7 linked regions of the Homo sapiens genome follow. The protein of the gene in region 1 purifies or fractionates together with the protein of each later gene. This does not show direct contact. Each region holds a gene or a part of one and is shown in the gene's direction. Other genes may lie near its edges.

The links.
Region 2: the proteins of ALCAM (region 1) and TSPAN5 purify together in Homo sapiens (co-immunoprecipitation; one large-scale study listed by IntAct). This does not show direct contact.
Region 3: the proteins of ALCAM (region 1) and ABCC1 purify together in Homo sapiens (affinity purification with mass spectrometry; one large-scale study listed by BioGRID and IntAct). This does not show direct contact.
Region 4: the proteins of ALCAM (region 1) and AAMDC purify together in Homo sapiens (co-immunoprecipitation; one large-scale study listed by IntAct). This does not show direct contact.
Region 5: the proteins of ALCAM (region 1) and SLCO5A1 fractionate together in Homo sapiens (co-fractionation; one large-scale study listed by BioGRID). This does not show direct contact.
Region 6: the proteins of ALCAM (region 1) and ITGA2 purify together in Homo sapiens (affinity purification with western blotting, with the first as the bait; one study listed by BioGRID). This does not show direct contact.
Region 7: the proteins of ALCAM (region 1) and ITGA1 purify together in Homo sapiens (affinity purification with western blotting, with the first as the bait; one study listed by BioGRID). This does not show direct contact.

Annotation. Positions count from the first base shown.
Region 1 is NC_000003.12:105,530,909-105,534,408, forward strand, and holds part of ALCAM (CD166 antigen isoform 1 precursor), read left to right. Parts: intron 1-1,093; coding exon 1,094-1,158; intron 1,159-2,694; coding exon 2,695-2,782; intron 2,783-3,500. UniProt on the Homo sapiens protein: Cell adhesion molecule that mediates both heterotypic cell-cell contacts via its interaction with CD6, as well as homotypic cell-cell contacts. Promotes T-cell activation and proliferation via its interactions with CD6.
Region 2 is NC_000004.12:98,648,612-98,652,111, reverse strand, and holds part of TSPAN5 (tetraspanin-5), read left to right. Parts: intron 1-3,500. UniProt on the Homo sapiens protein: Part of TspanC8 subgroup, composed of 6 members that interact with the transmembrane metalloprotease ADAM10.
Region 3 is NC_000016.10:16,120,616-16,124,115, forward strand, and holds part of ABCC1 (multidrug resistance-associated protein 1), read left to right. Parts: intron 1-1,359; coding exon 1,360-1,559; intron 1,560-3,500.
Region 4 is NC_000011.10:77,838,144-77,841,643, forward strand, and holds part of AAMDC (mth938 domain-containing protein), read left to right. Parts: intron 1-2,875; exon of another isoform or gene 2,876-3,042; coding exon of another isoform or gene 3,043-3,081; intron 3,082-3,500. UniProt on the Homo sapiens protein: May play a role in preadipocyte differentiation and adipogenesis.
Region 5 is NC_000008.11:69,668,763-69,670,978, reverse strand, and holds part of SLCO5A1 (solute carrier organic anion transporter family member 5A1), read left to right. Parts: 3' UTR 1-2,216.
Region 6 is NC_000005.10:53,092,816-53,095,279, forward strand, and holds the end of ITGA2 (integrin alpha-2 precursor), read left to right. Parts: 3' UTR 1-1,964; downstream 1,965-2,464. UniProt on the Homo sapiens protein: Integrin alpha-2/beta-1 is a receptor for laminin, collagen, collagen C-propeptides, fibronectin and E-cadherin. It recognizes the proline-hydroxylated sequence G-F-P-G-E-R in collagen.
Region 7 is NC_000005.10:52,860,916-52,864,415, forward strand, and holds part of ITGA1 (integrin alpha-1 precursor), read left to right. Parts: intron 1-531; coding exon 532-644; intron 645-3,500. UniProt on the Homo sapiens protein: Integrin alpha-1/beta-1 is a receptor for laminin and collagen. It recognizes the proline-hydroxylated sequence G-F-P-G-E-R in collagen. Involved in anchorage-dependent, negative regulation of EGF-stimulated cell growth.

The DNA of each region.
Region 1 (3,500 bases):
TAATAACTGAATTCCAAATTGAGTAATAATTATACAAAAGCCAATTTAGTTTAGTTTGGTAATCAAAATTAAAAGTATTAGGTGGTAAACAATAAGACTATAAAAGAAAAAGTAGCTGATTGTTTAAATACATTTGCTTATAAGAAAATAGAATAATTTTGGTCCATGAGACTCACAAACATCAGTGACAATGAGGCAATATACTTTTTGTGTAAACTAATTGTTGGAGCTATTTAAAAAGCGCAAAATCCATCATTGATAGAAAATAGCAGCTAAGAATAAAATAACTTAAAATCAGTTTAAATAATAAATTGTTGCTGCAACTTTTAATCAATTGCTCCTGAAGTCTTTATTAAAATTTATGTTTCTTAGAACTACCTATATTTAAAATGTTTTTGTCCATCATCTCAGGTTCCACATTTGAAAGATTTTCTCACATTTACACTTTCATATTGTGACTTGGCTTAAGAGGTAAAGTTAGAGATATTTCAGAAATTTGGGTTTATAAATTCCTTAACTTGCTTTCTATTTCCCATGATTTTAGAACAGTGTTTCTCAAACTTTATGGTGACTGAGAATCCCCTAGAAACTTGTTTAAAATGTAGAGTTATGGGATTTTTTTTTTTCAGGAATTCTGATTCAGTAGGCCAAATAGGGCTCAGAAATCTGAATTTTAAACAAGTATCTTTGTGATTCTGGTTCATGTAAATTAATGTCTTCAGTTAATGAGCTGGAAGTTACTGATAAGTAAGAAGTGCTCATGGTAATCAATTAGAGACAATATATCCTATATAGGACATTAGCCCCTGTTTCACTATCAAATCCATATTCACTATTTATAAAGCATTCAGAAAGCATTATTTATATTTTATTCAAAGGAATTACAAGCACTGAAAATAATATTTAAGATAATAAATATTTGAAGGGGTAGACCTATAGATTCCCCAAATCCAGATTGTATAACGAAATCTATTTTTATTCTGTTGCTTATTCTTCTGTATTGAGTAAATGAATTGTTTTTGCTGTGAATCAAATCACAGAAGTCCCGTTTTTCTTACATATGTACTTAAAATCTTTCTCTGCTTAACTTTAGAGCAACCATCTAAACCTGAAATTGTAAGCAAAGCACTGTTTCTCGAAACAGAGCAGCTAAAAAAGGTAAGAATTGTTTTTGATTAATACCTTTATTTAGCCAGTGTTGTAAGTGCCTTCTTCTGACCTTACATTCCAAGACAAGTAAGAAAGGCTTTGCTCTTGTGGAGATGACAGTGTTGCAGCTACCAATCAGAAATTATCTACAAGGCACAGAGGGTACAACATGCTCACAGTCTCAGGTAACCATGAGGACATCAAGGAAGGTGGGGTCATTTCTGAAAAGAGGAGTCTTTCTCATTTGAATTAATGGATTGTTTAATAGAAGGATGAAGCCAGTTAGCATGATTCATGCCTGTAAGCCCAACAGTTTGGGAGGTTAAGGTGGGAGGATCACTTGAGCCCAGGAATGTACAGCATGGCAAGACCTTGTTTATAAAAAATATTTAAAAGTTAGCTGGGCATAGCGGTACATGCCTGTGGTCCCAGCTGCTTGGTAGGCTGATGCTTGGTAAGGAGGACTGCTTGAGCCTAGGAGGTCAAAGCTGCAGTGAGCCATGTTTGCACCATTGCATTCCATTGTGGACGACAGAGCCAGACCCTGTGTAGAAAAAATATATAGAGAGAATGATGAAAGATGAATAGATTTTCACCAAGCCAAAGGTAGAAATGGCTTTCCAACAATATGAAATAATAGGATGTGAAAGAGAACGGTGTGTTTGGGAAACAGCAAATTTTGGCATTGATGAAACTGGGTGCCAAGACAGAAAACAAGAAAGGATAGAAAGAGATGAATCTGGAGAGGCAAAGAAAAGTTGGATCATGACAAATCTTACATACTAAATAGGGAGTTTGGACTTTATTCTGTTGGCAAATTATGCTACTGAAAGATTGAAGTAAAGAGGTGAGATCAGATTCGAACAACACATTAGCAGATATGTGAAGGGAAGCTGTATTAAAGTGGGGGACAAAGTTGGAGTTCCATATTGAATAATAATGTAACTAAAATACCAAAGTTTTCCTTTGTTGGGAGATGGAAACCCAAGTCCTACATTCTTTGTGTCATATTAAATTTTACTGCATAAAATTATTTGATGAATACCAAATATTAAAGTTAAAATACATTTAAAGAAAGTGAGGGGAATTATAGAGCATGATAATGTATATCCTCTTGAAATATATGTAGTATGAAACTGGAGACACAGCCCCATTTTAACACCAAATTATTCTTCCGTATGAAGATCTATGATTCATGGTAATAGTCAGTGTTAATAGAGTAATGTTATTTGGTTAATGTTAAAAATGAATAGTGTCAAAATGAATTTGGCAATGCTTTCAAATGAATGTGATTTTATAATAGTGACACCATCTATTGCACATTTAAAAATCGTCAAAAGTATATTTTCAAATAAATTGTTAAAAAGGTCTTAAAAAGACATTGTTTTTATACCAGAGAGCATGTATTCAGTCTTTGGTCAGTGTTGGAAAATAAACGGGTCAAGAAACCCTTGGAATAACTCTGCATTGCCTGAGTTTCTGGAGTTTCCAAATTGACAGCCCCTGATTGAACCAAGGTAATAACATTGCCTTTTTATTTTGCAGTTGGGTGACTGCATTTCAGAAGACAGTTATCCAGATGGCAATATCACATGGTACAGGAATGGAAAAGTGCTACATCCCCTTGAAGGAGGTGGGTGTGAGGGCAGGAGGACAGGGAGTACATTCAGAGGACCTGTTCTGACTTTCTTTGTTCTAGGTATTCTTTAAACCAGTGGTCTCCAACCTTTTTGGCACCAGGAACTGGTTTCATGGAAGACAATTTTTCTTTGGATCAGGGTGGGGGGATGGTTTCAGGGTGATTCACAGGCATTAGGTTTATTGTGTACTTTATTTCTATTATTATTACATAGTGATATATAACAAAATAATTATGCAACTCACCATAATGTAGAATCAGTGAGAGCCCAGAGCTTGTTTTTCTGGAACTAGACAGTCCCATCTAGGGGTGATGGGACACAGTGACAGATCATCAGGCATCAGATTCTCATAACAAGTATGCAACCTAGATCCCTCATATGTGCAGTTCACAGCAGGATTTGCATTCCTGTAAGAACGTAATTCCACAACTGATCTGACAGGAGAAGGAGCTCAGTCAGTAATGTGAGCCATGGGGAGTGGCTGTAAATACAAAAGAAGCTTCTTGTGGTTGCCCACCGCTCACCTCCTGCTGTTTGCACCCATACCAGTCCTGGAGGTTGGAGACCCCCGCTTTAAACTATTCAGGATCTAAATATGTTGCCCTCTTTTGAGCTATGACTCTTATGCTCTGTTACTTTAAGTATGTACTAAATTAATACATGATTTTTTAAACATCATTTTCAGCCCTTGTACAGAAGAATCAAGAGCAG
Region 2 (3,500 bases), on another chromosome or scaffold:
GAGGCTGGAGGATGGCTTGTGCCCAAGAGTTTGAGACCAGCCTGGGTAACATAGTGAGACCCTATCTCTACAAAAAAAAATTAAAAATTAAAAATTAGCTGGGTGTGGTGATGCGTGCCTGTAGTCCCAGCCACTTGGGAGGCTGAGGTGGGAGGATCACTTGAGCCTGGGAGGTTGAGGCTGCAACTGCACTCCAGGGTGACAGAACAAGACCCTGTCTCAAAAAAAAAAAAAAAAAAAAAAAAAAGTATGTTGAAGGAAAGAATTACAAAATCATCAGAAAGTACGTAGGAATCATCTCCTCTAACTTCCTAGTCAGTGAAGCATTCTCCATTGTATCGTGCCTACCTTTCTAAGCATGGATCTGTTTTTGGACCACTTTAATTGTAGAGTTTCATCTGTTCAAACTAGATGTTATCTGTCTCCCCATCATTTCCATCCTCCTAATTTACTGTTCATTTAAAATTTTTATTTGGAAACATTAAACCAATAGGAAAATTGCAAGTAGTATAGAGAACCTGTTTTTATCCTGTTTGAGACAAAGTTGCCAGCATGTTGGCTATCACACAAACAGTTGAGTATGTATTTTCTGTAAACTGGACTATTCTCCTAGATCACCACAGTACAACCATGAAAGCCAGGAAATTACCAATGATACATTAACACCATTTAATCCTTAGATTTCATCCAAGTTTCCCAGTTGCTCCCATAATGTTTTAAAGCAAAAGAATTCAGGTCAGAACCACACTTTGTATTTAGTTACATGTTTTTAGTCTCTTTCAGTCCTTCACTATCATGCTCTTGATACTTTTGACAATTATAAGCCAGTTATTTTGCAGAATGTCCCTCAGTTTGTGTTTGTGCCATTTTCACAAGCTTAGATTCAGGCTGTGCATCTTTGGTAGGAATAGTACAGAAATGGTGCTGCGTTCTCATTGTACCCTATCAGGGTGGCATTGATTTCTGTTTGTCCCATTACTGATGATGGTCACTTGATCAAGGTGTTGTCTGCCAGGCTTCTCTACCATATAGTTACTCTTTTCTCATTTGTAATTTATAAATGTTTTATGGCAAATTACATTGAAACCATGTAAATAGCCTATTCCTCATCAAATTTTCAATCTGTTATTTATTTATATCAGTAAGAACTTAGTGTCTTCCTTTTTTCAGTGTGGTTTAATGTTACTGTCATTACTTTATTTAAAATGGCCCTAGGTTTGGCCAGTGCAGTCTTTTCACATTGGCTCCTGTGCTCTTTTAACTCCCATCAGTCTTTGAGCACCATCTTGCTCTCTGGCAGAATAAGATGTTCCAAACTCATTTTGTGATTTACCTGTGTCATCTTTTGTATCAGACATTTCTCCAAGGAGCTATTGAATGGAGAATGGAATTTAGAAGCCAAGATCTGGTTGCTTGGTGTGCTCATTGCTATTAGGGTGTTGCTACTCTGTGTATATACAGACACACATGTACATCTGTAATTCTGTATCTATGTACTTTTAAAACCATGAGTTTACAGTCATACCTTAAATTCCTGTCTGATACCACAGGGTTTAGTTTTTCCTCTCCATATTTTATAACTGCTTTATTTGACAGTGAGATTCTTGGTTCGCATTATTCTTAACAGTTTACTTATTTGGTAAATCTCCCCATATGTAACCAATCTTCTGCAGCTGCCACCACCTTTCCTCCTGGGGCTGCCCTCCTCAGCTGTTAGTGCTCTAGCATCCTGTGCCACCACCCCCATCCCCATATGGATACCTTTCTCCCTGAGATACCCTGCTCTGGGCTTCCACAGCATCCCTCTTCCTACGTTTTTGTAAACGTAGGAAGCCTACCAGATTGGACCTACCTAATGGCTTTGAATTTTCAGGAAGGAGAAGGCGAAGAGCCTCGGCTACTCTTGAATGATGTAAAATAAGACTTATCTTCCTTCCCCATGGTCCTTCATTATTTAAAAATAGCCATTATGTCATTCCTAAACATTCTGTTTTCCACCTTTAAAAGCTCCTAGTTCCTCCATGTGTTTACACTAATGATGTTTTTCTTGTAAGCATCTCAAAGAGTCTTCCAAACATATTATATCTTTGTGACAGATGAAGAAATTGGAGTACAGAGATGTGGAGTAACTTTTGAGATGTTGAAGAGCATGTCAGGGTTCGGTTTTAGAGTGTTAGGTCTACATATACTGTTTCCAGATTGTTCTTTGCCCTGGTCACGGTGCTCTGCCTAGGGTCCCATTTGGACACACCTCTATTAATGCAGCAACCAGAATGAAACACGTTGTTCACAGGCTTTTCTAACCATCCGAAGAGCAGCAGGCTCTTGAACTCTCCCTTCAGTCCCTAGGCTGTGCTGTGCCTGGTGGCAGAAGCCTCTGCTACTGTCTGGAATTGACTTTGAGTAAGTTACTTTCACAGATTAGTTCCTCAGTTGCTCATCTAAAAAAACCAGGAAAATAATTTTCTGCAAAGTTGTTATCCAGTATTATGTGAGATCATGCATATCAACGTGCTTCATAAATGGTAAATCTCTAAATACAAATACTAGTTATTAACCCAGGCTAAACTGCACTTGCTTTCCCTGGCAGCCAACGAACACTTTGGCTTGGATTGACTTTTTAGTGAAATAAAACCTTCACTTTTTCAAGTGAACTCTATTAAACCATCCCCCTAAGCTATATGCTAATCAGAAGCCCTAACCCTCCAGTTAATTATTTGAATTTAGATTTAGTTCTGTTTATTTCTCCCATTTAAATGTCTTATTCTGGCCCATTGGATTTCAAACCTGCTACCAGCAATCCTAGGCCTCCTTGAGGCGTATGTGGGTGGGTGGGTCTGTGCTGGTGGGGTGTGGACTGAGCAGTACCTCTCTTTCCTCCAGAAAAGCTTGGTTATTAGTTTGATATTTTGGGATACTAAGAAAGATTTTGCTTGAAAAAAGGGGTCCCACCACTTAAGAAAGAAAAGAACCAGTATTCTAGCCTTTAGATGTCTTTGAATCTTGATGGCCAAAGTACATTTTTAAAAAAATTACTCCTCGTGTGGGTTTTTATCTCTTGGAATCTCTCCATGCATGGGAAGTCCCTCTCACTAACTAGGGGTCACTTCTGTAGGATTAGTTGATATTTCACCCCTTTATGCATGTAGTGTGGCAGCCTGATTAGTAAGGAAATTTCAGTCTTCCCACTGGGAGATCTGGTTCAGTAGGTCCATCCAGGATGGGGTCCTGGAATTTCTGTTAAGAAAAAAATCAAAACTTCCTGCAGGTCATTGTGATGCCCAGCTGAGTTTGAGAAGCTTTAGCTTGTTTTTCTTGGGAAGATGTGGCCTCTCCTTCCCGTTGCTCCCTGGAGGGGATGTGTGGGAGAGCTGGGCGTGGGTGGTGTAGAGCGGTGACCATTTCACCAGCACATGAAGCTAGTGTTCTTTGCTTACGAGAAAAAAAAGGTGGCCTATTTTATCCCTCATGGAATTTTTTATTAATCCAAAAACGCCAGT
Region 3 (3,500 bases), on another chromosome or scaffold:
GAAGGGCTTCCCGAGGAAGTGACATCTGTGCTCCCATCTGCTGGGTGATGAGGAATGGCCTGGACGGGATGGGCATGGTGGGTGGAGGCAGGCGGCCTGTGTGCAGGGAAGGAAGGGGAGAGTTACAGGATGAGATGAGTTGAGGGAAGAAGCATGGTTGGCAACTCTAACAGCGCTGGGAGGCCATCGGAGGGGGGTGACGAGATTGACCCTATCCTCATGGGCATCTCAGCTGGGCTGAGTGTGCTGGAACCGGCCATTGCATGGACACAGTCACTCCTGAGGGGATGTGATCAACAGGCGGAATTCTGTCACTTAATGATAACAATAGTCACCAGCTAACTGAATGCTTACTGTTAGGTCAAACTATATGAAACTGCTAATACTTATTTCTTATCTACAGAAACAGCTATTTCCTGTGGTTCAACCTAGTATTACCAGGCACTGTGCTTAGTGACATCATGCATATCTATATGATTTATGAAATAATGTGTCCACGCAAATACACATCACATGTAAGACTGTAACTCTTACATGTCACCCTCACAATGACCCCGTGAAGCAAGCTTTGTTTTGTTTCGTTTGTTTTCTTAATAATATTTTATTTTTGTAGAGATGGCATTTTGCCATGTGCCTGGGCTGGTCTCAGACTCCTGGCCTCAAGTGATCTCCCGCCTCTGCCTCCTGAAGTGCGGGTATTACAAGCATGAGCCACCCCACCTGGCCGAGCAAGCCTTGTTGTTCCCATTTTACAGATAAGGAAACTGAGGCTTAGAGAAGTAAAGTGTTAGTCGTGTTTATATTGCCAGTCAGTAGTTGAGTCAGGATTTGAACTGAGGTCTCGTTGACCTCAAAGCCTATGCTGAAAACCACACTGCTGGTTCCAGAAAACCCTAGAGGTGAAAGGCTTCAGAGAGGCAGTACAGGGTAGAGGTTAGCACTTTGCAGCCCAGATGGCCTGGGTTTGAATCCCAGTTCTGCCCCTTGCTAGCCATGTGACCTTGGGGAGGAGATTAACTAGCTTCTTTGTGCCTTAGTCTACCCATCACATATAGGAATGAGCACCTCAGGTTTTTTGTGAGGATTGAATGAACTGATGTTTGTAAAACTGCTTAGAACGATGCCTGGGGCTGTGGGCTTTGTATAAGCGTGAGCTATTATTGTCACTGTCCTTGTCATTGGTGGTGCTATTCCTGTGGTTCACCAGGTGAGTGGGCACCCCTGTGAGGGCAGCCCGGCTCTAACATTTTGCCTCCTGGAGGTATCGGTTACGTCTAGATGTTCTCCAGCACAGCCCTGCCCTGGGAGGATGGCAGGAGGGAACCTTCATCAACTCCCCGCGTCTGTTCTCTACCCCAGAGGTTCTACGTGGCTTCCTCCCGGCAGCTGAAGCGCCTCGAGTCGGTCAGCCGCTCCCCGGTCTATTCCCATTTCAACGAGACCTTGCTGGGGGTCAGCGTCATTCGAGCCTTCGAGGAGCAGGAGCGCTTCATCCACCAGAGTGACCTGAAGGTGGACGAGAACCAGAAGGCCTATTACCCCAGCATCGTGGCCAACAGGTGGGCATGGTGGGCCTGCAGGAGCGGGTGGAGGAGGCCGCCTTAGCACCTTGTCTCTTTGCCTCGATCTTTTCCTCGCACCTTGAGCTGGGTATAAAGCCAAACCCCGGCCTTGCAGAAAGGATGGAGAGGCTTGATGAGCGCGGAGGACAGATGAATCATTAAGAGCAGACAGCGGCACTGTAGACATGCAGTGCCCGCGGCATTTAAGTGCAGGGACACAGCTCTTCTGGAGTCAGAAAGCCCTGCAAGTGCTTCCCGTTAACTGTCATCCTAGTGATGCAAGACTGCCAGCGACCGACTCTGCTATTGAGTATCTTCATACCGCTGTTCCCGTCTGGGGGTGATCATGCACCCCTGGGTGATGTGTGTCAGAAGCAATTTACTAATACTAAGCTAAACCATATGAGATTGTCATCTTGTGGGCCAGATGTCATGGCTCACGCCTGTAATCCCAGTACTTTGGGAGGCTGAGGCAGGAGGATCCATTAGATTCCAGGCCAGCCTGGGCAACATAGCAAGACCCCCATCTCTCTTAAAAAAAAAAAAAAAAAAAAAAAGTAGCCCATCATGGTGGTGTGTGCCTGTAGTCCTAGCTTCTCGAGAGGCTGAGGCTGGAGGATCGTTTCAGCCCAGGAGTTCAAAGTTGCATTGAGCTATGATTACACCACTGCACTCCAGCCTGGGTGACAGAGTGAGACCCTGTCTCTGGAAAAACAAAAAAAGGAGATGGGGGTGGGAGATTGACATCTTGTGGATCACAGATAATAGCATCAATCCAAAAGAGGCAGAAGTTTGCTAATTATTTGCTGAATTTAGAGAAGTGTCCCTCTCACCCATTTGCATCCTTATAGACTTTTCTGAAAAAGTGACAGCACCCCAGAGGTGTCCCATAACCATTAGCCCGTCTTACACACTCTAATCCCATAGCGTAAGTCTGGGTGGGCTAACCCTGAATGATTACAGACCTTGACTTCCCTTCAGAATTTTTAGGGAGTTTGTCACAATCTGGCTGTGTCTGTCGGAGTAGTGAGGATCAGTCACTTGGTTCATAAGGGCTGCAATGGAGAAAAGATCAACACCCCATCTTCCTAGAATGCTTTATATTTTAGAACATTAAAATAATAGTTCTAGTGCTATATGATATCATACGAAGCCTAGCTTTAAACAAATAAGATGGCCAGGCGCGGTGGCTCACATCTGTAATCCCAGCACTTTGGGATGCCAAAGTGGGTGGATCACCTGAGGTCAGGAGTTCAAGACCAGCCTGGTCAACATGGCAAAATCCCATCTATATTAAAAATACAAAAAAATTAGCCGGGCATGATGGTGGGTGCCTGTACTTGGGAGGCTGAGGCAGGAGAATCACTTGAACCCAAGAGGCAGAGGTTGCAGTGAGCCAAGACCGCACCATTGCACTCCAGCCTGGGCAACGAGAGCGAAACTCTATCTGAAGAAATAATAGAAGAGAAGAGAAGAATAAAATAAAAAGTAAAATAAAATAGTTCTGATGGTACATGATACCATACTAAACCTAGCTTTAAACAAATAAGATGACCAGGCACATTGGTTGACACCTGTAATCTCAGCACTTTGGGTGGCCAAGGCAGGCGGGTCACTTGAGCCCAGCAGTTCGAGACCAGCCTGGGCACTCTAGGGAGACCCTGTCTCTAAAAACAAAACAAAAAACCAAAAATTTGCCAGGTGTGGTGGCATGGGCCTGTAGTCGCAGCTACTCAGGCTGAGGCAGGAGGATCACTGGAACTTGGAAGGTTGAGGCGGCAGTGAGCTGTGATCATGTCATCCACACTCCAGCCTGGATGGCAGAGTAAGACCCCATCTCAAAAAAACAAAATGACAGAAAACATGATTTCTGTTTCTATTTTAAAGGGTAAAATAGTATATTTTAACACTTTGAAATGAAGAGTCTGGGCTTGGGAA
Region 4 (3,500 bases), on another chromosome or scaffold:
TTCTAATCGTCTTTAGTTGGAGATTAAATATGGTTAAGGAGACACATATAGGTGCCAAATTGACAAGATGTAGACTGTGACTGTTAGTTTTATGTGTCAACGTGGTAAGGTTATAGTACGGTTATTTAATCAAATACTAATCTAAGTGTTGCTGTGAACATACCTTGTAGATATGGTTAACATCTACAGTCAGTAGACTAGTGTATATATGAGATTATATCCTTGATACACTGAGTTGGCCTCTTCCAATCAGTTTAAAGTCCAAGCAAAACTGATGTTTCCTTGAAGAAGAAATACTGCCTCAGTACCATAACAACTCTTGCCCAAGGGTGAGCAGCTTACCAGTATTATCTATACATTTTGGACTTGCCAGCCTCCAAAATTTTGTGAGCCACTTTTTTGAAACAAGTCTGTCAATATTTATAGTCATCTGCTTCTGTTTCTCTGGATAACCCTGACTGATACAAGTACCTTTTTTTTTTTTTTTTTTTGAGACAGAGTCTCGCTCTTTTGCCCAGGCCAGACTGCAGTGGCATTATCTGGGCTCACTGTAAGCTCCGCCTCCCGGGTTCACGCCATTCTCCTGCCTCAGCCTCTCGAGTAGCTGAGACTACAGGCGCCCACCACTGCGCCCAGCTATTTTTTTGTATTTTTAGTAGAGACGGAGTTTCACCGTGTTAGCCAGGATGGTCTCAATCTCCTGACCTCGTGATCCGCCCACCTGGGCCTCCCAAAGTGCTGGGATTACAGGCGTGAGCCACCGCGCCCAGCAATACAAGTACCTTTTACTTACTGTGCTTACCAGTGCTAGAATTTCCATTTTATTCCTTTTTGAAGTGTTTCCTTATTGAGATTCTGTATTTGCTGAGTCATTGTTACCATATTTTTGTTTATTTCTTTGTGCTTTATTTCCCTTATACTACTTTCTTTGAAGTCTTTGCTAAATGTCAGACTTCTGAGAATACTCAATTACTCAGATACAGTTTCTTTTTTAATTAATTAATTAATTTTTGGAGACAGAGTCTTGCTCAGTCACCCAGGCTGGAGTATAGTGGCAAGATCATTGCTCACTGCAGCCTCAAACTCATGGGCTCAAGTGATCCTCCTGCCTCAGCCTCCTGAGTAGCTAGCACTATAGGTGCAAAGCCAACACACTTGGCTTTTTTTTGTTTGTTTGTTTTTGTAGAAACCAGGTCTCCCAATAGGAATGCTTTTACACTATTGGTGGAAATGTAAATTAGTTCAACCTTTGTGGAAGACAGTGGGGCAATTCCTCAAAGACCTAGAACTAGAAATGCCATTTGACCCACCAATCCCATTACTGGGTATATACCCAGAGGAATATAAATCATTCTGTTATAAAGAGAAATGCACACATATATTCATTGCAGCACTGTTTACAATAGCGAAGACATGGAATCAACCCATATGCCCATCAGTGATAGACTGGATAAAGAAAATATGGTACCTCTACACCATGGTATACTATGCAACCATAAAGGGGAACAAGATCATGTCCTTTGCAGGGACACAGATGGAGCTGGAAGCCATTATCCTCAGCAGACTAACACAGGAACAGAAAACTGAACAGCACATGTTCTCACTTATAAGTGGGTGCTGAACAATGAGAACACATGGACACAGGGAGGGGAACAACACACACTGGGGCTTGCTGGTGGGGGTCAGGGGGAGGGAGAGCATCAGGATAAATAGCTAATCCATGTGGGGCTTAATACCTAGGTGATGGGTTGATAGGTGCAGCAAACCACCATGGCACATGTGTACCTATGTAATGAACGTGCATGTCTTACACATGTATCCTGGAACGTAAAAAAGATGTTACATGCATATAACAATTTCCAAGATATTGGAAAGCAAAAAAGCAAAATAAAGACCAGGGTTGATAGCATGTTATCATTTCTGTAATATTAGAGTATGGAGAGGGGGACAGTAAACACACACACACACACACACACAACACCCAGGGATTTGAATGATTAATGCACAATATACCCTTGAAAAGAAACATGAAAACTAGGTATCTGGGGTTCATGGGAGCAAGGAAACTTTCACTTTCTACTGTTTAGTACCTTTTGAATTAAAAGTATCTTTAAGTGGCTCACGCCTGTAATCCCAGCACTTTGGGAGGCCAAGGCAGGTGGATCACCTGAGGTCAGGAGACCAAGACCAGCCTGGCCAACATAGTGAAACCCTGTCTCCACCAAAAATACAAAAATTAGCCGGGCATGGTAGCACATGCCTGTAATCCCAGCTACTTGGGAGGCTGAGGCAGGATAATCACTTGAACCCCGGAGGTGGAGGTTGCAGTGAGCCAAGATCGCACCACTGCACTCCAGCCTGGGCAACAGAGCCAGACTCCATCTCAAAAGAAAAAAAAGTGTTTAATGTATTTCTATTAGAAAAATAAAATTCTAATAAAAACATAAAAGAAACTGGGTATCCCTATGTTACCCAGGCTGGTCTTGAAATTCTGGCCTCAAGTGAAATTCCCACCTTGGCCTCCCAATGTGCTGGGATTACAGGCATGAGCCACCACACTCAGCCCCAGGTAACAGTTTCAGTTTACTGAGTGTGGGTCATAGTTTTTGTTTATTTGCATGCCTTGTAATTTTTTGTTGAAGAGTGACATTTTAGATAACATATTGTAGGACAGTGTGGATGGCATCCAGCCTGGCGAAACAACTTTTCCCCCTGAAAGTTGTTCTTCTGTTTATTTGTGTGTGGGGGTTTAGCCATTTGCCTATACTAAATGTCTTAATCCATTTTGTGCTTAATCCATGTTGTGCTCCTATAACTGAATACCTGAAACTGGGTAATTTAAAATTTATAATGAAAATAATTTTTTTTCTCACAGTTCTGGAGGCTGGGAAGTCCAAGACCAGTTGGCTCGCATCTGGTGAGAGCCTTCTTGCTGCATCATCCTATAGTGGAAGTCATCACATGGTGGAAGCACCAAGAGAGGGCCATACTTGTCCTTTTATAATGAACCTACTACTCCTGCAATAACAGCATAATCTATTCATGAGGGTGGAACCCTCATGGCCTAATCAGCTCTTAAAGGTCCCACCTCTTAATGTTGTTATAATGGCAGTTAAATTTAAACATGAGTTTGGAAGGGTGCAGACATTCAAACCATAGCACTAAACTAAATCTATGAATTCTCCCATGCAATATGTGTCTACTTTAGTCTCTGTTCTGTTAGAGTTTTTTCCTTGATTTTATTCTTAAACCCAGTTTCCCAAGATTCTCCTTGGTGTGTATATAGCTTAGTGTTCAGCCAAACATTAATTAAACATTTGGCTCAAACACCTTGAGGCAGTAAGACTTTCTCTCTCTACTGATGGAACACTGTGTGTACAGGGGAGTGCGTTCAAAGTCCAGCTGTTGTATGTCTTCACTGGCTTTTACATTCTGCAAGGCCCTCTTGAACCTTCTTGCTTATCCACTGTGTATGTGCTGAGGATCCATTAGCCCAGAAT
Region 5 (2,216 bases), on another chromosome or scaffold:
TCTTGCTGATTAAGAAAACCTTGCTGATTGAACTAGTGTCTCCTTTGGGGCCTCAGGGTTCCCCTTTACCCTCTATGGGAGAGCTCTGATCCTTTAAAGGAGAAATTTTCCTTTGGTGTGGGAGTTAAAGATATGTAGATTGGAGAGGTGTGGTGTTTTCTTAATTTTCTTCTGATCATTAAGATACTGCATTGAGAGAATTTTGGTGGGATTGGCACTTTTTCTGGTAGCTAAGATTGCTGGACTCAGCACGGAGTAGTTAGAGAGCCCCCTTACTCCCTTTGCTGCCATGAACAGTCATCCAGTTTGGCGATCACTGATCAGGTGCCAGGTATCTTCAGGTGTCATATTACCTGATTACCATCTGCCACTCCATAAAATCCTTTGGGATGATTGGGCCAGAACTCAAAGAAATGGGCCTGAAATGTGCACCACAGTGTTAATATTGTACTTCCTCAAGTATCTGCTCCTTATAAATAGCAGGTATTTCATTAATGTGTTGTTGGTGAATGTAGACTAAGTAGTAAAAATCATGAGAAAATAAAGCTTTGGAATATGTACCAATTAAGAGTGGTTCACAAAATACTTGGGGCTATGGTAGCATCACTGGAATATTACATAGCCAACTGAAGTGACTGTTTTGTAGATGATACCATTTAATTGTATATATAGGGTCTTATATGTTTCTTAATAAATTGATCCCATTACTTTATAGTCACAGCTCCTATTAGAAGTTTTAATGAAGACTCTCCATGAGCTTAGGCTTCAAATTACTTGTTTTGGAAAAGGTCATCTTGTCCTTTATAAACTGTAAATTCATATATTATTTAGCTTTAATATGCAAATACAATATCCTTGAGTTCATCCTATTAATTTAGAAACTCCCAGGAGGTAAGATGGGTGGTTGGAGCGCATTCTTTGGTTATTTTCATTAGCATTAAGTCCTTATTCTTTATAGGTGGATTTAATTCTTGAAAATATTCAAAAGTAATTCAGAGTCAAGGTGTTGGGGATGGAGAGAAAGGAGGAACAGAGAGGAAAAAAATTAGCATTTGTTGAGTGTTGACGATTTGTAGAGCATTTTGACAAGCACTTAATATACATCATCATTCATTTTGATCCTCTTAATTACCTTGCAAAGATTTGATTCTTTTTTTTTTTTTGAGACAGAGTCTTGCTCTGTCACCCAGGCTGGAGTGCAGTGGCTTAATCTCAGCTCACTGCAACCTCCGCTTCCTGGGTTCAAGTGATTCTCCTGTTTCAGTCTCCTGAGGAACTGGGATTAAGGTGTGTGCCACCACACCCAGCTATTTTTTTTCTATTTTTAGTAGAGAGAGGGTTTCACCATGTTGGCCAGGCTGGTCTTGAACTCCTGACCTCAAGTGATCCACCTGCCTTGGCCTCTCAAAGTGCTGGGATTACAGGCATGAGCCACCATGCCCGGCTGATTTTATTATTTTTTTAAAAAACATATGAAACCAAGACTCAGAGAAGTAAAATAACTCATTTAGGATCATACAGAATGGTAAAGTCAGGATTCAGACATAGATTTCTCTCACTCCATTATTCATTTTTTACACTACGCAATGTATACAATAGCTTTTGGTTAACAAAGGCAAGGTGACTATAAAATCGTGAGATTAAAGCATTTCAATTTTTTGATATATTACCGTTTATGAAGAGTAGAGAGGTTTTTTTGTGTAAATAAAAAAAACTGTAGGAAACATCTGTAGGAAATATCAAGATTTAATGTTTAACTAGATTTTCAAGGTAAATTTACATTTATTTAGCTAAGTGTTATATTAAAGTTATTTGTCATAACATACCTCAAATATTTATTTATAGTTCATATTTAATACAGAACAAATCTAGTCTTCGTGTTAACATCGGGTCTCGGCAGAGTTTCTGAAATGAAACATTATGAAGAAAGGTAGTTCAGATTTGTTGAATCTGAGCTTTAGGGATTTCAAGTGTATTTTTTTTTATTTTCCTCTTTCAGAATATTAACATCTCTATTAGTTTTTTGATGAATATGAGTTTTAAGATTCCTAATAAGGGTTTTAAGTGAACACACATAAAATACATATCAAACCACTGATCCCGATTGTTCCCTTTAGTCGCTGTGACATTGTTACCTTTAGTGGCATGCACTTGGAAATGTCAGCCTTCAGAGAAGGGGGAGTTACATGGAGTAAGGCCTCATGGATGTCATGGTG
Region 6 (2,464 bases), on another chromosome or scaffold:
AAAAGACAATGTGGCCAGGCACGGTGGCTCACACCTGTAATCCCAACACTTTGGGAGGCTGAGGCCGGTGGATCACGAGGTCAGGAGTTTGAGACTAGCCTGGCCAACATGGTGAAACCCCATCTCTAATAATATAAAAATTAGCTGGGCGTAGTAGCAGGTGCCTGTAATCCCAGTTACTCGGGAAGCTGAGGCAGGAGAATCACTTGAACCCGGGAGGCAGAGGTTTCAGTGAGCCGAGATCGCGCCACTGCACTCCAGCCTGGGTGACAGGGCAAGACTCTGTCTCAAACAAACAAACAAAAAAAAAGTTAGTACTGTATATGTAAATACTAGCTTTTCAATGTGCTATACAAACAATTATAGCACATCCTTCCTTTTACTCTGTCTCACCTCCTTTAGGTGAGTACTTCCTTAAATAAGTGCTAAACATACATATACGGAACTTGAAAGCTTTGGTTAGCCTTGCCTTAGGTAATCAGCCTAGTTTACACTGTTTCCAGGGAGTAGTTGAATTACTATAAACCATTAGCCACTTGTCTCTGCACCATTTATCACACCAGGACAGGGTCTCTCAACCTGGGCGCTACTGTCATTTGGGGCCAGGTGATTCTTCCTTGCAGGGGCTGTCCTGTACCTTGTAGGACAGCAGCCCTGTCCTAGAAGGTATGTTTAGCAGCATTCCTGGCCTCTAGCTACCCGATGCCAGAGCATGCTCCCCCCGCAGTCATGACAATCAAAAAATGTCTCCAGACATTGTCAAATGCCTCCTGGGGGGCAGTATTTCTCAAGCACTTTTAAGCAAAGGTAAGTATTCATACAAGAAATTTAGGGGGAAAAAACATTGTTTAAATAAAAGCTATGTGTTCCTATTCAACAATATTTTTGCTTTAAAAGTAAGTAGAGGGCATAAAAGATGTCATATTCAAATTTCCATTTCATAAATGGTGTACAGACAAGGTCTATAGAATGTGGTAAAAACTTGACTGCAACACAAGGCTTATAAAATAGTAAGATAGTAAAATAGCTTATGAAGAAACTACAGAGATTTAAAATTGTGCATGACTCATTTCAGCAGCAAAATAAGAACTCCTAACTGAACAGAAATTTTTCTACCTAGCAATGTTATTCTTGTAAAATAGTTACCTATTAAAACTGTGAAGAGTAAAACTAAAGCCAATTTATTATAGTCACACAAGTGATTATACTAAAAATTATTATAAAGGTTATAATTTTATAATGTATTTACCTGTCCTGATATATAGCTATAACCCAATATATGAAAATCTCAAAAATTAAGACATCATCATACAGAAGGCAGGATTCCTTAAACTGAGATCCCTGATCCATCTTTAATATTTCAATTTGCACACATAAAACAATGCCCTTTTGTGTACATTCAGGCATACCCATTTTAATCAATTTGAAAGGTTAATTTAAACCTCTAGAGGTGAATGAGAAACATGGGGGAAAAGTATGAAATAGGTGAAAATCTTAACTATTTCTTTGAACTCTAAAGACTGAAACTGTAGCCATTATGTAAATAAAGTTTCATATGTACCTGTTTATTTTGGCAGATTAAGTCAAAATATGAATGTATATATTGCATAACTATGTTAGAATTGTATATATTTTAAAGAAATTGTCTTGGATATTTTCCTTTATACATAATAGATAAGTCTTTTTTCAAATGTGGTGTTTGATGTTTTTGATTAAATGTGTTTTGCCTCTTTCCACAAAAACTGTAAAAATAAATGCATGTTTGTACAAAAAGTTGCAGAATTCATTTGATTTATGAGAAACAAAAATTAAATTGTAGTCAACAGTTAGTAGTTTTTCTCATATCCAAGTATAACAAACAGAAAAGTTTCATTATTGTAACCCACTTTTTTCATACCACATTATTGAATATTGTTACAATTGTTTTGAAAATAAAGCCATTTTCTTTGGGCTTTTATAAGTTATATATTTTACTATTTTTATCTTATACATTCACTTTGCTCACATCCAAGACTCAATTTAAGAAGACTGAGGCTATAATTAATTTGCCATAAGTGTCCAGTCTATGTTTCTAGCAGTGACCACAAGGATCTTCTTTTGTAAGACTCTTAAACTGCCTTCGAAGTTTTGAGACAGTGTAAAGCATTGCTCCTCAAAGTGTGGCCCAGGGACAGATGGTGCTGCATCACCTGGAGCCTGTTAAAAAACACAGATCTCAGGGGCCACTCAAAACTATTCAAGTCAAATTGTAAGTTCTACAGCATCCCCAGGTGATTCATATTGCATTGAAGTTGAGAAGCACTGCTCTAAAGCTTACCTTTTGAAATAAAATGTGTGCTTGGAATAGAGAGGGAAAAAAAATCAGCCAAACTGCTGCAACATGCAAAAGCAGAGTCATCTGCACAGTTTAAAAAAAATCATAATAAGCAGGAAGGTTTAAATATTTTTAAAGAGTAAATATGCT
Region 7 (3,500 bases), on another chromosome or scaffold:
CTAGCACATGCTAATATTAAATCTTATGATGTTCCAATGTTTATATTTCCTGACTTCTCTATAAAATTAGCAGTTCATCATAGGAAAAAGTCACTTATACTTCCACATGTGTTTTATAAGTTAATACAGTAGCAGACTTAGCCAATAATTATTGATTATTTCAGTACCCCAATAAAAAATATGATAAAGTAATATAAACAAAATAATAAAGCAAAATCTCTGAAATATCTATCCTACATATACACACACATATACATGTATATACACACATATATATGTATATACACACATGTATATGCTATATATGTATATTGTATATGTATGTGTGTGTGTGTATATATACTTTTTAATCCACATCAATATGCAAGAGGTAGGCTCTCTGCTTAGTTTACATAACATTAAATTACTAATAGCATGATTATTATCTGATTATGAGTGTTATTGTCAATTATCTTAAAATCAGTCATAAAACAACTCATATAAACTGTTTCTCAATGTTCAAAAATGTTTACTGATTTATTTAACTTCCAGGGTGCTTATTGGTTCTCCGTTAGTTGGCCAACCCAAAAACAGAACTGGAGATGTCTATAAGTGTCCAGTTGGGAGAGGTGAATCATTACCTTGTGTAAAGTTGGATCTACCAGGTATGTAAAATTAAAAAAATCTGGTTTTAGGCCAGGTGCGGTGAGTCACGCCTGTAATCCCCACACTTTAAGAGGTCAAGACAGGCATATCGTTTGAGCCCAGGAGTTTGAGACCAGCCTGGGCAACCTGACGAAACCTCATCTCTACAAAATATACAAAAATAGCTGGATGGGGTGGTGCACTACTGTAGTCCCAGCTACTCAAGAGGATGAAGTGTGAGGATCGCTTGAGCTCAGGAGTTTGAGACTGCAGTGAATGGTAATTGCGCCACTGCACTCCAGCCTGGGTGACAGAGTGAGACCCTGTCTCAAAAAAAAAAAAAAAAAAAATCAGGTCTTAAATTATGCCCAGTATTCTCACTGAAAACAGATTTTGGGCTGGGCGCAGTGTCTCACACCTGTAATCCCAGCACTTTGGGAGGCCGAGGCAGGCGGATCACCTGAGGTCGGGAGTTCGAGACCAGCCTGACCAACATGGAGAAACCCTGCCTCTACTAAAAATACAAAATTAAGCTGGGCATAGTGGTACATGCCTGTAATCCCAGCTACTTAGGAGGCTGAGGCAGGAGACCTGCTTGAACCTGGGAGGCAGAGGTTGTGTTAAGGCAACATCACGCCATTGCACTCCAGCCTGAGGAACAAGAGCAAAACTCCATCTCAAAAAAAAAAAAAAAAAGAAAAGAAAAAAAACAGATTTTAATCAACTCAAGAAAATATTAGAAGTAATCTGTGTGTCAGAATGGTCGAGCGGTCTAAGGCGCTGAGTTCAAGAAGTAATCTATAATCATTTTTCATATAATCATTTATAATCTATAATCATTTTTCTATAATCATTTATCTTCCAGATTGACATAGAATGCCATTTTGATTCCCTCTGTCCTTAATTTGCTTTAGAAAGTCATCAAGGAGCATACATAAATTAGAATACCGTACTAATTTTATAACTTTTAACTCTCTGCATTTTTCAGAATTCTTTCTAATTCAGTGGTAATGTGAAAGAACTTCTCCAAATAAACCTGCCCACCACATTCCCTCCACAAAATTTAACTTAGTGCCTGGTTTTCAAGAGGAAATAGAATCAGAGGAATTGTAATAGATAAATTTAATTTTAAAAATAGAATCACACAAGATAAATTTATATTGAAATAGATGTATTTGACATAAATAGTAGGAATGTGACCGGAAAATTCCTACTAAAATTATCTAGAAATTAGAACCCTGTCAATGTTCTATACAATATTACATACTATGGAAATTATTTATAGCCCCACAAGTTTATTTCACATATTGTATTTTTCAGTTCTCCTTTTTTTGAATTTTCTATTTGTTTGTTTTTATGAACTTTTTTTCTTTACATGCATAAGCATACTTATAATAGCTGCTTTAATATCCTTGCCTGATAATTCCAACATCTGGAATATCTCAACATCACTTTCCATTTATTACCTTTCCTTGAGGTTGCATCACATTTTCCTGTCTTGTCTTGTAATTTTGGATCATAACCTGGATTATATTTTTGAATTACAGGTGTGGAGATTCTAGATTCTGTTATATGCCTGTGAATAGTCTTAACTTTTTTTATTAGCAGGAAATTTACTTGGCTCAACTCAATTTCCAAGCATTGACTTTCTTGCAATGACAAGTAGTTAAAATCTCTATTCAGGTTTTATTTCAGCTGGGCTATTTGAAATATACTCTGCGCATTTACTATTCAAGTCATCTAGTTATTTGGATAAAATATATATGCATATTATAGAACTGTTGTTTTGTGGCTCTTTTTCTAAGATATACTACTCTCCTCCTCATTTTGCAGCTGCTGTCATTGCCCTCAATCTCTGTTCTCTTTTTATTCAGTACAGTAAGACTAGGAGTTCTATTTGAGTTTTAGCCACTGACCAGGGCCTTCCCTAGGTTGGGGGTGGGTTAGGGGTGGGGGACAAAAACAAAACAAAACACAAAAGCACAAAACTCATTTAGTGCCAGTATCTTCTTCCAAGTATGGATTCCCCTCCATTTTCTGCCACCTTTCTAGTGCCTTCAGGTGATTGTTTCATGTATTTTTTTTAATTCTTCCTAGAATTTATAGTTGTGATTTGCAGAGGAGCTGTTTTGTTAGGAGTTACTCCTCCCTTACTGGAAATTGGAATAGTTTTAAAATTAGGCTAGAGATTTTAGCCACATCAAGTACAGTAGGGAAGTTTCCACTGTAGTCCCTAATTGTCCCAGGAATGCTTTTTCTGGGTCAAGCTTTGTATATAAAACTCTAATCCAGATTATACAAGATCAATGCATACAATCGCCCAGCTCTAGGTGCTTTCAAAGCAAACCAGACTAAACTCTTGGACAAAGGCCATTGCGCAGATCAGGAAGTCTAACTGACCATTCCAGAATCTCTGCTTCCATTCCCCACTTTAAATCCACATACAGTCTTAACATGAAAACAACCTCTGGAACAAACAGTGAGACAAATCTTTCTCAACCTGAATTTTGCCTCTTTCTAATATTCCACTCTACTAAGCAGATTTAGAAGTTCTTGTTTTTCCTGTCCAGTCTTTTTTTCTTTTTTAGTGTGAGAAAGTGAAACTTCTTGCCAATATTGTTAGGCTGGCATGCTTCATGCTTCAGGACCCAACATTCCCTTCAGAATGTCAAATGCAGTCTCTTTACTGTGTTTCCTTTATCAAAACTTTCTGGACACTGCTCTAATATTCCTCTAGTTTCCTTTGTCACCCAAAGGATGTCCTCATGATTTTGGAAGTCATGGTCAAAAAACTGGTGTTTGAGTTTTCTTTTCTGATCTTCTACCCATTTCCCCTTTTCTTGCCAAAAATCGTGTTTCATCACTGGTCATTTATA